Homo sapiens: one gene and its partners. The protein of the gene in region 3 interacts with the protein of the main gene of each other region in a biochemical or structural test. Each region holds a gene or a part of one and is shown on either strand. Other genes may lie near its edges.

Region 1 (3,653 bases), on a different chromosome or scaffold from region 3:
ATGCCACCACGCCCGGCTAATTTTTGTTATTTAGTAGAGATGGGGTTTCACCATGTTGGCCACGATGGTCTCGATCTCTTGACCTCATCATCCGCCTGCCTCGGCCTCTCAAAGTGCTGAGATTACAGGCGTGAGCCACCATACCCAGCCCATAACAATATATTCTTAAACATTCATATATATGTATGTTTAAATATTCGTGTGTGTGTGTGTGTGTGTGTGTGTTTATGTGTATGTGTGTGTATATATATGTTTGTGGTTTTTTGTTTTGTTTTGTTTTGTTTTTTGAGACAGAATCTCACTCTGTCGCCCAGGCTAGAGTGCAGTGGTGCGATAGGAATCTGTATTTCAAACCAAACCTCATCTGTGGCATTGGGATCTTTGGCATTTACAAATTGGACTCTCCTGGTTTCTTCATTAGACATGTTGATAGCCAAGAACATGGGAAGTCTTTAACATATCTAAATGATGGGTTTAGAATCCAGTATTGTAGGATTAAGATTGATCGATGTACCTTCTCCTCTTTGCTAATGGTGTATACCTTTGCTCCAGTTTGCCTCATCAGAGGGTTTCATGGCAGACTCCAATCCCTGATTACCTCATCTCTCTATTCTCATGCTGACAGGAGCTGCTACTTTTAGGTGTTTTTTTTTGTTTTGTTTTTGTTTTTTTGAGTTAGGGTCTGACTTTGTCATCCATGCTGGAGTGCAGTGGCACAGTCATGGCTCGCTGCAGCCTCGACCTGGGCTCAAGTGATTCTCCCGCCTCAGCCTCCTAAGTAGCTGGGACCACAGGTGTGCACCACCATGCCTGGCTAATGTTTGTATTTTTTGTAAAGATGGGGATTTGCCACAGGGTTTGCCAGCCCAGGCTGGTCTCGAACTCTTGGGACTCAAGTGATCTGCCCACCTCAGCACCTCCAAGTGCTGAGATTACAGGCATGAGCCACAGTGCCTGGCGCTTGGATTTATTCTTGTTGGGTTCATGCTTAACTGATCACACTGTCCATCAGACATATTGTGCCCCTGAAGGACTGCTAACATCTTTGGACTTCCTGGCTGATTTATAAATTTAGTATCCAGTTCCTCATATGCTGCATTTTTTTGTACAGTTCCTGAGTAGTCTCACTTTTGAGAGTATCTATTAAGTGCATACCAGGGAATGTTTAATCCCTCTGTCTCAACTGTCAGCTGTTTTGTTGACTAAGGCCTTTGTATAAACTATGCTTCATGTTACACAACAGGTTTGACATTCTGTTGTCTCTCCACTCTTGTACTTCACAGAAAACCCGCCTAGTGCCAAGCAACCCTCCAAGATGCTAGTTATCAAAAAAGTTTCCAAAGAGGATCCTGCTGCTGCCTTCTCTGCTGCATTCACCTCACCAGGATCTCACCATGCAAATGGGAACAAATTGTCATCCGTGGTTCCAAGTGTCTATAAGAACCTGGTTCCTAAGCCTGTACCACCTCCTTCCAAGGTATGATTTAGAATCAGGGCAAGAACCTTATACAAGAGAGGTTTGGGAATAAATCAGGAAAAAATTAATAAATTTGTTTTTTCTTGCCGCATCAGTCACCAGATATTCTTTCAGTACCTGTTATATGTATACAGCTTTCTTTGCTTTTTTTTTTTTCTTTTTCTTTATTTTTTTGAGACAAGGTCTCACTCTGTCACCCAGGCTGGAATGCAGTGGCACAATCATGGCTCAGTGTGACCTCAGCCTCCCAAGTAGCTGAAACTACAGGGGCACGCCATTATGCCCGGCTATTTTTTTTATTTATTTTATTTTTTGTTTTGTTTTGTTTTTTTGAGATGGAGCCTCGCTCTGTCACCCAGGCTGGAGTGCAGTGGCACGATCTCAGCTCACTGCAAGCTCCACCTCCTGGGTTCACACCATTCTTCCTCAGCCTCCCGAGTAGCTGGGACTACAGGCGCCCGCCACCACACCCGGCTCGGTGTTTTTTTGTATTTTTAGTAGAGACGGGGTTTCACCGTTGTTAGCCAGGATGGTCTCAATCTCCTGACCTCGTGATCCGCCCGCCTCGGCCTCCCAAGGTGCTGGGATTACAGGCGTGAGCCGCCACGCCCAGCCATTTTTTTTTTTTTTTTTTTAATTATTTTTTGTAGAGACAGAATCTCATTTTGTTGCCCAGGCTGGTCTCTATCTCCTGGCCTCAAGGAATCCTCCTGCCTCAGCCTCCCAGAGCGCTGAGATTATGGGCGTGAGCCACCACACCTGGCCCCTCTGGTTTTCTGTAATAGCAACAACATCCTAATCACTCAGCTTGACTATCTTGGCTACTTCTCTTCTCTTCCTCCTTAGTCATTCTCCTCAGCCAAGGAATTACAAAGTCCCTGTTATTCTCTCTATGCTGTCCTTGTTCAGGACTTTGTCTTCTCACATTTACTGTTCTAGTATACCTTTCTATTTTCTCATGTCTCTGTGTCCTACAGAACTGCCAGAATGATCATTCCAAAAACAATTGAATATATCACATGCCTTCCTGAATTCCTTCAGTGGCTCCAAACAATGTATGGCAGGGATTGGTAATTTTTTTCTATGAAGGGCCAGATAATAAATATTTTAGGCTTTGCTTGATATATATGATTTTTGTTACACATTGCCTTTTTTTTTTCCAGCTCTTTAAAAATGTAAAAATAAGTATGAGCTCATGAATCATACAGAAATGCCTTGGTCAAGATTTGGCCCATGGGTCATAGTGTGCTAGTCCTATAGTCAGTGTGCAGAGTAAGCAGAGGTCTGTGAAGTTTCTCATAGCCAAACTCTAATCCATCTTTTGCATCTTATTGCCCCTTTTTTCTCTTACCCGGGAAGAAATTATTCTTCTGGCGCATGCCATCCTCTCTGTGAATAATTTTCTTTCTTTTCTTTCATCTATTTATTTAAAATAGTGATTGGGGTCTCACTATATTGCCCAGGCTGGTCTCGAACTTCTGGGCTCAAGCCATCCTCCCACCTTGACCTCACAAAGTGCTAGGATTACAGACGTGAGCCACCGTGCTCACCCTCTGAATAAATTCACTGGGAGTTACTATCCTAGTGATAATGATTGGAGTTTTCAAGGTAGATTAGATATACAAGAGAAGAGGATGGAAGAAGAGAAGAGGATAGAAGAGGAGTAAAGAATGGGATAGTACTGAGAAACTAGTTCAGAAAAAAATGGTAAACTCTCACAGAAATACAAGTGGGTGAGTTTGCAATAGCAACAGGGGTAACAAGTTGAGGAAAATAACTGAGAAAAAACCTTAGTGATTATCTTAGGAGACTTTTGAGTTGATGTTTTTAGGGAATAAAGTAGGGCTGAAACAGTATTTCAAGGGCTTTTGGAAATATGTGGAGGTAGTGGCACCTTTTAACCTTGACAGTAAAAGGAACTAGATAGAATATAGGCAGTGGAAAAGATAAGTGAATGGATGAGGAAGTCTGTTGGAAGAAGCCACTGGAAGCAACTTGAACTGTACTTGGAAGAGATCATTAAAGGATTATGGGCCAAGAAGAAATATGTGGGAATAAAACTAATTGACAAGTACAGTTATCTTTGAAAAGGGTTTAGGATACTTAGGGTTTATTTTCCTCTGATGTAGAAGGGAAAGAATGTGAATTCAAGTGAAGAGAGCAACTATTACAAAGA
Region 2 (3,653 bases), about 43 Mb from region 3:
TCCAGCTACCTGTGGGGCTGAGGTAGGAGGATTGCTTGAGCTCAGGAGGTCGAGGCTGCAGTGAGCCGCAGTCACACCACTGCACTCTGTATAGCCTGGGTGACAGAGTGAGACCCTGTCTCAAAAAAAAAAACAACAAAACAGGCTGTTAATCTGCTTTGGCTTTTCATAAAAGCCTTGGCATGGATTGGCATTATCAAGGTGCTCTTTTTGAAAAAAACCATTTTTCTTTCAGTGCATTAAAATGACTGTCTAGTTATGGCTGTAGCATTGAGGAAGTGTTTACTGTCTCTGAGCTCTTAAATGCCTGTCCTAAGATATTTTTAGGTTGAATTAAACCCTTCATCTTTAAATTGTTTTTTTTTAGCAGAGAAGTTGTAGTGGTAATAGCTCCCACTTTTACTGACCCATATTCATGGCTTGAAGAGGAGGACATCAAGAAGTTCAAGAAAGCATGAGAAAAGGGAAGAACTGAATTAGGAATGACATTGCCACCTACCATCAGTTGGTGGTAAAGTCCTTGGGAGTTTTTAAGTACATTGCCAGTGTCTGAAATTTACTTGGACTTTTTATTGGATACTAGTTGCTGTAGGACTTTATTTGGAGAGGAATAGTCAGCTTTTTAGTATTAATTTCTTGATTTTCATTTTGCCATTGAAATGTAATTCCCAAGTCTGGAAGTCATGATTGTAATTAGGGAAGAAGGTCCTGTCAGTTGTAGAAATCTAGACAGCATTAGTCCTTCTTTTTTTTTTTTTTTTTTTTTTTTTTTTTTTTTTTTTTTGAGACGGAGTCTTGTTCTGTCACCCAGGCTGGAGTTCAGTGGCGCAGTCTCAGCTCACTGCAAGCTCCGCCTCCCGGGTTCACGCCATTCTTGTTCATTCTTGTGAACCCGGGAACACGCCGGGTTCACAGGCACCCGCCACCACGCCCGGCTAATTTTTTGTATATTTAGTAGAGACGGGGATTCATCGTGTTAGCCAGGATGGTCTCGATCTCCTGACCTCGTGATCCGCCTGCCTCAGCTTCCCAAAGTGCTGGGATTACAGGCGTGAGCCACTGCACCGGGCCCCAGCATTAGTCATTTTTGACATTTGATAGGTCAAATTGTTATGTGAGTGTGTATACATGTGCATGTGCCCCCATATTTAACGCATCTGTATTTATAAGTATTGTAGTGCTAAGCTCATTACTCAGTTTCTTATATAGAGGAGTGTATTTCAGTGCAATGTTGTATATTAATGGAGGTCAGTAACTTCAACTGTAGCAGGCTGGTGGCTGTCAGAAGCATTACCCAGTTGTGTCTGATAGGGCACAGCCATCAGGCTTGTATTGCCCAAGGGAGCACTCAGTGAGGTGTCAGTGTCCCTCTTATTGCTGATTCTAGGTAACTTCCCATTGAAAAATTGTAAGGAAGAGATGTGAACGTGTAACTTTGTGCTTTGCTCTTTGTTTTAAAGGAGATGCAAGCAAAGCTCGCAGCGCAAAAATTAGCTGAAAGACTGAATATTAAAATGCGGAGTTATAATCCAGAAGGGGAGTCTTCAGGGAGATACCGAGAAGTAAGGGATGAAGATGACGATTGGTCCTCTGATGAATTCTGAAGATAATCTCCTAAATCACTGACGTTGAGATGTCATCATCTTACATCAGACTTTCTAACTAGTATCAAGATCAGTGTCAGATATTGTTGAGGGAAGTAATTTTATAAAGTTACACAAAGGTAGTTATAAAAAAAGCCCAGTTTGTCTTTCAGAAGGTGACTTTCATGTGCTTGAAAAGTTTAATATTTGAATATTGTGTTTAACCACATGGTATTAAAATTTTGCAATATATTGTGTATTGGTCTGATATTTTAGTATATAGTAGAACATACTTTTTTTTTCTTTAAGCCAAATGAAAAGAGGTAACTTTGCTTTTTTCCTTTTTCTTACCTATCAAATAGCATTTATTACATGTCTTTCAGTGAAATACTTAGTTGTTCCAGGCACCTAAAATCAATTAGGAAGACATAGTTCCCTTCTTTTTTGGGTAATGAAGGGAGCAGTCTAAAGAATTGTATGCATGTTTGCATGGGGTTATTGAGACATTGGATGTGAAATACCTAGGAAGACATGTATGGAGAATGCTTAACAAATGCTCTTCTCCTTTTTCTGTCTTCCCTTAGGAAGAACGTTATCTCTCTTCTGATTAGGAAGGACTTCCCTTTTGAGTAGATGCTGGAAAGTGGAGGTTTTTTTTGTTGGTTTGTTTGTTTGGTTTTGTGTTTTTTTTTGAGATGGGGTCTTGCTCTGTCGCCCAGGCTGGAGTGCAGTGGCAGGATCTCGGCTCACTGCAATCTAGGTGGAGGTCTTTTTAAATAACCTCATGTTACTTCAGGCAAATCTGGTACAGGAGAAGCCCAAGCTAACTGAGCTGGGTGAAGGCTTGTGCATCACCTGGCTTGAGTTCCTTGCTGTCACAGATGATAGGTTCATGTACACAACATTAATGTTTGATAAGGAAAGCATTTTTTTTTTGTTAAAATTGAATTGTCAGTACTTTACTTTTTTCCCCCCAAATAGGTATATATAGACTGCAGAAGCTTCAGTCCCATATATAAACGTTCATGTCATTTTAGAGGATTATATGGTTGTCTCCAGAGAAATTAACTTACATTATCAAAAAATTCTTTGTCTAATATATTGGAGTCTTTAAAAGTGTTGAAGAATAAAATATTAATTAGAACAACTTCAAATGCTAAGGTGATGTTTTACCGGGACTTAATTAAATACAACTTTTTCCTTTCGAAAAAGACTGTTCACATTTGCTTCCAGGTGTAATTATTGCTTTCATTCCTTACCCCCCTCAAGCAAATGTGAAAAGTATACTGACCTAAGATTCTCATTAGTTTTAGTTCTTAAAACGAATAGTAAATGATTTCACAGCGTAAAATTTGATGTTATTTCTGGAAGCTGGATGATATGGAAGAGTTCATGTGCCTGGACACACAGTTCCCTGTAATCCTGCCATCTAGGGAGATAAACTCTGTTAACATTTTGATGTTGTGTTTTTGCTTATTTTTCTATGCATAGTTATGCATTTATATTCTCAAAAATGAAATCATAATGTACATTGCTTTGTAGTCTGCTCTATATATTGTCAATATGTTCCCATATTAAATATTTTGCTTTTTAGACAGCTGTAGGATATTTTATTTCATGGGTATACCATAACTTTAAGATTTATTTCCTATTCAGCAATTTGATTATGTATTATAATGTAATCTGTAAATAGTGATATGATTAACATCTTAATCACATCCATAGAAAATGACTTATTTCCAGAAGATACCGCTCTAAAAATGAAATTGTTAGGTGAAAGTGTTTTTGAGAATTTTTATATATATTACTCACTGCAGAGATCATGTTCATTTACATTCCCATTAGCAATATATCCAATGCTCAGAATTGAAAATTACTACTTAAAATCTTTGCAAATTGAATAATTACAGAAAAGGGCTACATTTAAAATTTGTATTTGTTTTTCTTACTTAGTGAAGGTTGTGTTTTTTTTCATATTCATTGGCCATGCTATATTCATTCTTTTGAGAATTGCTCATTCATATTTTTTCTGTTGCTTGCTTGGAGAATTTGCTCTTTTTTTGGCATATA
Region 3 (3,653 bases):
ACTTCTGGAATGTTCCTTCTCCTCCTTTGGTCCATGCTGGGTCCGGTGGTGGGCAGTGCTCTGAGAGGTGTGTGACTGTGGCAGGGCTTTCAGGACCGAAGCGACGGCCACTCACAGAGAGCTGGGGGGGCGAGCCACTGCCTGGGTGATGTCTGCTCAAGTTCCACCCACCCTCCGCAATCCAGAAGTCTTCCCAAGTATTCTCCACCTGAATTATGTGGAAGTTTCCTGACTTCTCTACTTTCCAGGACAGCTCTCCTTGGCTGGCGGGACTGGTTTTTCCACTCTGGCTGGTGTCAGACATACTCAGAAGAATGAACATCTAATGACATGTTTGTCAAAGTAATGCGCGTCCTGCAGCCCATGCCCAGCATCTCATTGACAGCTGCTCTGTCAGCTGGCAAACTCTACGCCCATCAAAGCTTTCCAACCATTCCTCTTGCACCGCAGGCGAGCTGACTGCTGCTGGTGCTAATGAGGTTGAGATTGTCACACACCTTCCTGGGACACAATTGTGTTGCACAAACACACAGCGGGCCGCACGGCAGGGCAGACACACACAGACCCCAGCCTCACACCAGCTGGGCAAAGCCCCCCACATCCAGGGGCTTTGAAAGGATTAACCATTGTAAACAAACATGAGCTGAGGTCACGCAAGTCACAACAGGTAGGGGGTGTGAAAAGGCGTGCCTAGTACACAAATAAAAAATTAAAAATACCATTACCCCAACACCCAAGAGTAGACACTCTTTTTTAAAGTGTGGGTCTTTTTCTAACGCACACGTGGAAGTATAATAAGAACGTCGTCGTTTTCAATCACGTTATCTTCCAAGGATTTTTAAAGCATGAGAAAGCTGTCCCTACATAATTTTGAGTGTCGTTAGTTTTCCTTCTGGCGGCCAACTTTTCTCAGCCGGAGCTGGAAATTAGGCCTGAACAGTGTTCCCTGAGTGAGGCTGGTGGATTTGGGGGGTGGGAGAGGGGAAACAGGGCTCCCTATCATCCCAGGAAGTCTAGGAGAAGGTGGGATGGGACAAATCCAGCTTAGGCTCTGGGGACATGTGCAGAGGGTGAGTCCTGCGGGGGGATCAGCTGCAGTCATAGTAAGTCAAGTATTCCGCATTTATTCCAGAAAGACTTCAAGGCAAAGAGGCCAGTGGAGGCAGATCTAACTTTGGATGTAAGCACAGGAGGTTTACCGTTTAGATTCTAAACACAAATCATCAGTACTTAAATAAACAATAATTTAAAAATAACTTGCAATATTATTCGTCTGGATGCAAAAGAAGGCAAAACAAAACAAAAAGCAATGTGTAGATATTGCAGGAAACATAAACAGCACCGATGAGCAAAGCACAGTGACTGCAATCCCAGCACACAGACGTGGCCACACGCCACCCTTTGAGCATTACCTGCTCCTTGGCTGTAGTCTTAGTGTACACATTTATTAATATATTCTGCGAAAATGAAATCCAACATGCAATGCGTTAAAATTGGGCTTTACAGAGGGAGCACTGTAGGCTTTAGTCCCTGGAATTAATAACTTCTGTTAGTGAGCTCCAGGGCTGGGGCTCACAGGCTCAGTTCTGCTGGTACCACCTGTGGGACCTTAAAACTCTGAGTATGGGTATAAATTAGTAGCTTCTCACCAGATTCCTTATGAGGATTTGGTTATTATTGTAATTCATTAACATGTAACATAATTTTCTTAATGCTAAACAGGGGACAGAACTTTCTGGGGTGTTTCAGGCTATCTTCCTCTCCTCTTCAACTCTGTGTTCTCTGTATTAGGTCACTGCACAAACACCTCCCTCATTCTCAGGGGTTCCCAGGGTGTCACTTCCCTGTCCTGTCCCTACTTCAAGCTCCTTGAACAGTACACAGTGAAGGCTGCTGAGGTCACGTCAGGGTCCTTGGCCCTTGTGTGTGTCCCTTGGGTTATACAGAACAGGGATAGCAGGGATTCCTGAGATCCCACTGGGGAAAGAGGCCATCAGAGCAGAGTCAGGAGAGGACACCTCCTAAGGAGCAGTGCCAAGCTCAGATGCAGGCCTTTAGGGAGAATCATGGGGGCTGGGGAGTGCCACACTTTGGCCTTTCGGAACACCTTAACATTTTCTGGTTATCTGTCCTGCCACGAGCTTGGAGGTGGGGATGGGTTTGTCCAAAGCCCATTGCGCCCCGGTCCCTGGGACCTGTAAGAATCAACGGGGGATCCCTGGGGACCTAGAAACGCAGGCTGTCTGTGCCCCAGGCCTCCTGAATGAGATTCTGCATTTCATCAGGATCCCCAGGGGACATGTGCACCTGATAATTTGAGAAGTGCTGCTCTATGGGACTCAAACCATTTAGATGGCCTGATTCTCAACTTTAGCTACACGTTAGAATCACTAGGGAACTTTGAAAAATTAGCCATGCTGGCCGGGCGCCGTGGCTCACACCTGTAATCCCACCCCTTTGGGAGGCTGAGGTGGGTGGATCACTTGAGGTCAGGAATTCTAGACCAGCCTGGCCAACATGGTGAAACTTCGTCTCTACTAAAAATACAAAAATTAGCTGGGCGTGGTGGCGCACGCCTGTAGTACCAGCTACTCAGGAGGCTGAGGCAGGAGAATCACTTGAACCTGGGAGGTGGAAGTTGCAGTGAGCTGAGGTCATGCTACTGCACTCCAGCCTGGGTGACAGAGCAAGACACTGTCTCAAAAAAAAAAAAAAAAAAAAAAGAAAAAAAGAAAAGAAAAAGAAAAGAAAGAAAGAAAATGAAAAAGAAAAAATTACCCATGCTTGTTCACTCCCCGCCCCCCTGCCCCAAGATGCTGCTCCAGTGGGTCCAGGTGGTGCCAGGGCCCTGCCGGTTTGAGCCACTACCCAGTGACTGTGTGGGCCGTGGTTGAGAAGCACTCCTTTAGATCACCAACTGTTGACCAGGAGGGGAGGGAGCAGCGCCTCCTGTGGGCTTTTTCAGATGACACAGTCACCTACCCTACAGGCCCCAAACAGACCCAAGGTCCCTGTCCCCACCCTCGTCCCTCAGGGCTGCGAAGAGGAGCAGCAGGAGGATAAGGGAGCCTCACGTGCACTGGAAAGGTGGAGGTGCTACCCCCAAATCGGGGACTGCGTTCTATCACCCACGCCACCTCGATCTCACACCAACAGAGCAAGGTCTTCCTACCACACAACTGAAAAAAGACACACGTCTAATACAAAGAAAAAGAAAATTTACAAAGATGCAAGTTGAACACTCTGGAAAGATTTAGTGCTGGGCAATGTCAAGAAGCAAATTCGTTTCCCATTTCATAATGTGATGGATGTGAAACGACACCTTCCAGAAACATCACCCTGGTCAGCTGCTGGACATTTCAGATGGAGTGAAAACACTCAAACAACTGAACAAAGTGTCTGCCAAGCCAGGTACAGTGGCCGATCGTTAGTTAACACGGTTAAGGGTACAAACGTGGGCCTCTCAGACCCAACCTGTTGACCCTTTCACCTCCCATAGTGTGGCCTAGCATTTAAGAATGAGTGTTGCAGCATTAAGACAGGGTTCAGATGGCAATTCTGTGATTTCTGAGTTGTTGACCTTGAACACGTTTCCAGGCTTCTCTTACCCTCATGTTCCTCAGCTATAAAACGGAAATAAAAGTACCATGTGC

Evidence for each region.
Region 1: the proteins of LRRK1 (region 3) and GPBP1L1 form a complex in vitro, tested with the Homo sapiens proteins (2 studies listed by BioGRID and IntAct, with this or other methods).
Region 2: the proteins of LRRK1 (region 3) and POLR2M form a complex in vitro, tested with the Homo sapiens proteins (2 studies listed by BioGRID and IntAct, with this or other methods).

What each region holds. Positions count from the first base shown.
Region 1 is NC_000001.11:45,638,034-45,641,686, reverse strand, and holds part of GPBP1L1 (vasculin-like protein 1), read left to right. Parts: intron 1-1,283; coding exon 1,284-1,477; intron 1,478-3,653. UniProt on the Homo sapiens protein: Possible transcription factor.
Region 2 is NC_000015.10:57,713,076-57,716,728, forward strand, and holds part of POLR2M (protein GRINL1A), read left to right. Parts: intron 1-1,460; coding exon 1,461-1,604; 3' UTR 1,605-3,653. Other genes in the region: GCOM1 (GRINL1A combined protein), read left to right, coding at 1,461-1,604.
Region 3 is NC_000015.10:100,925,751-100,929,403, reverse strand, and holds part of LRRK1 (leucine-rich repeat serine/threonine-protein kinase 1), read right to left. Parts: intron 1-3,653.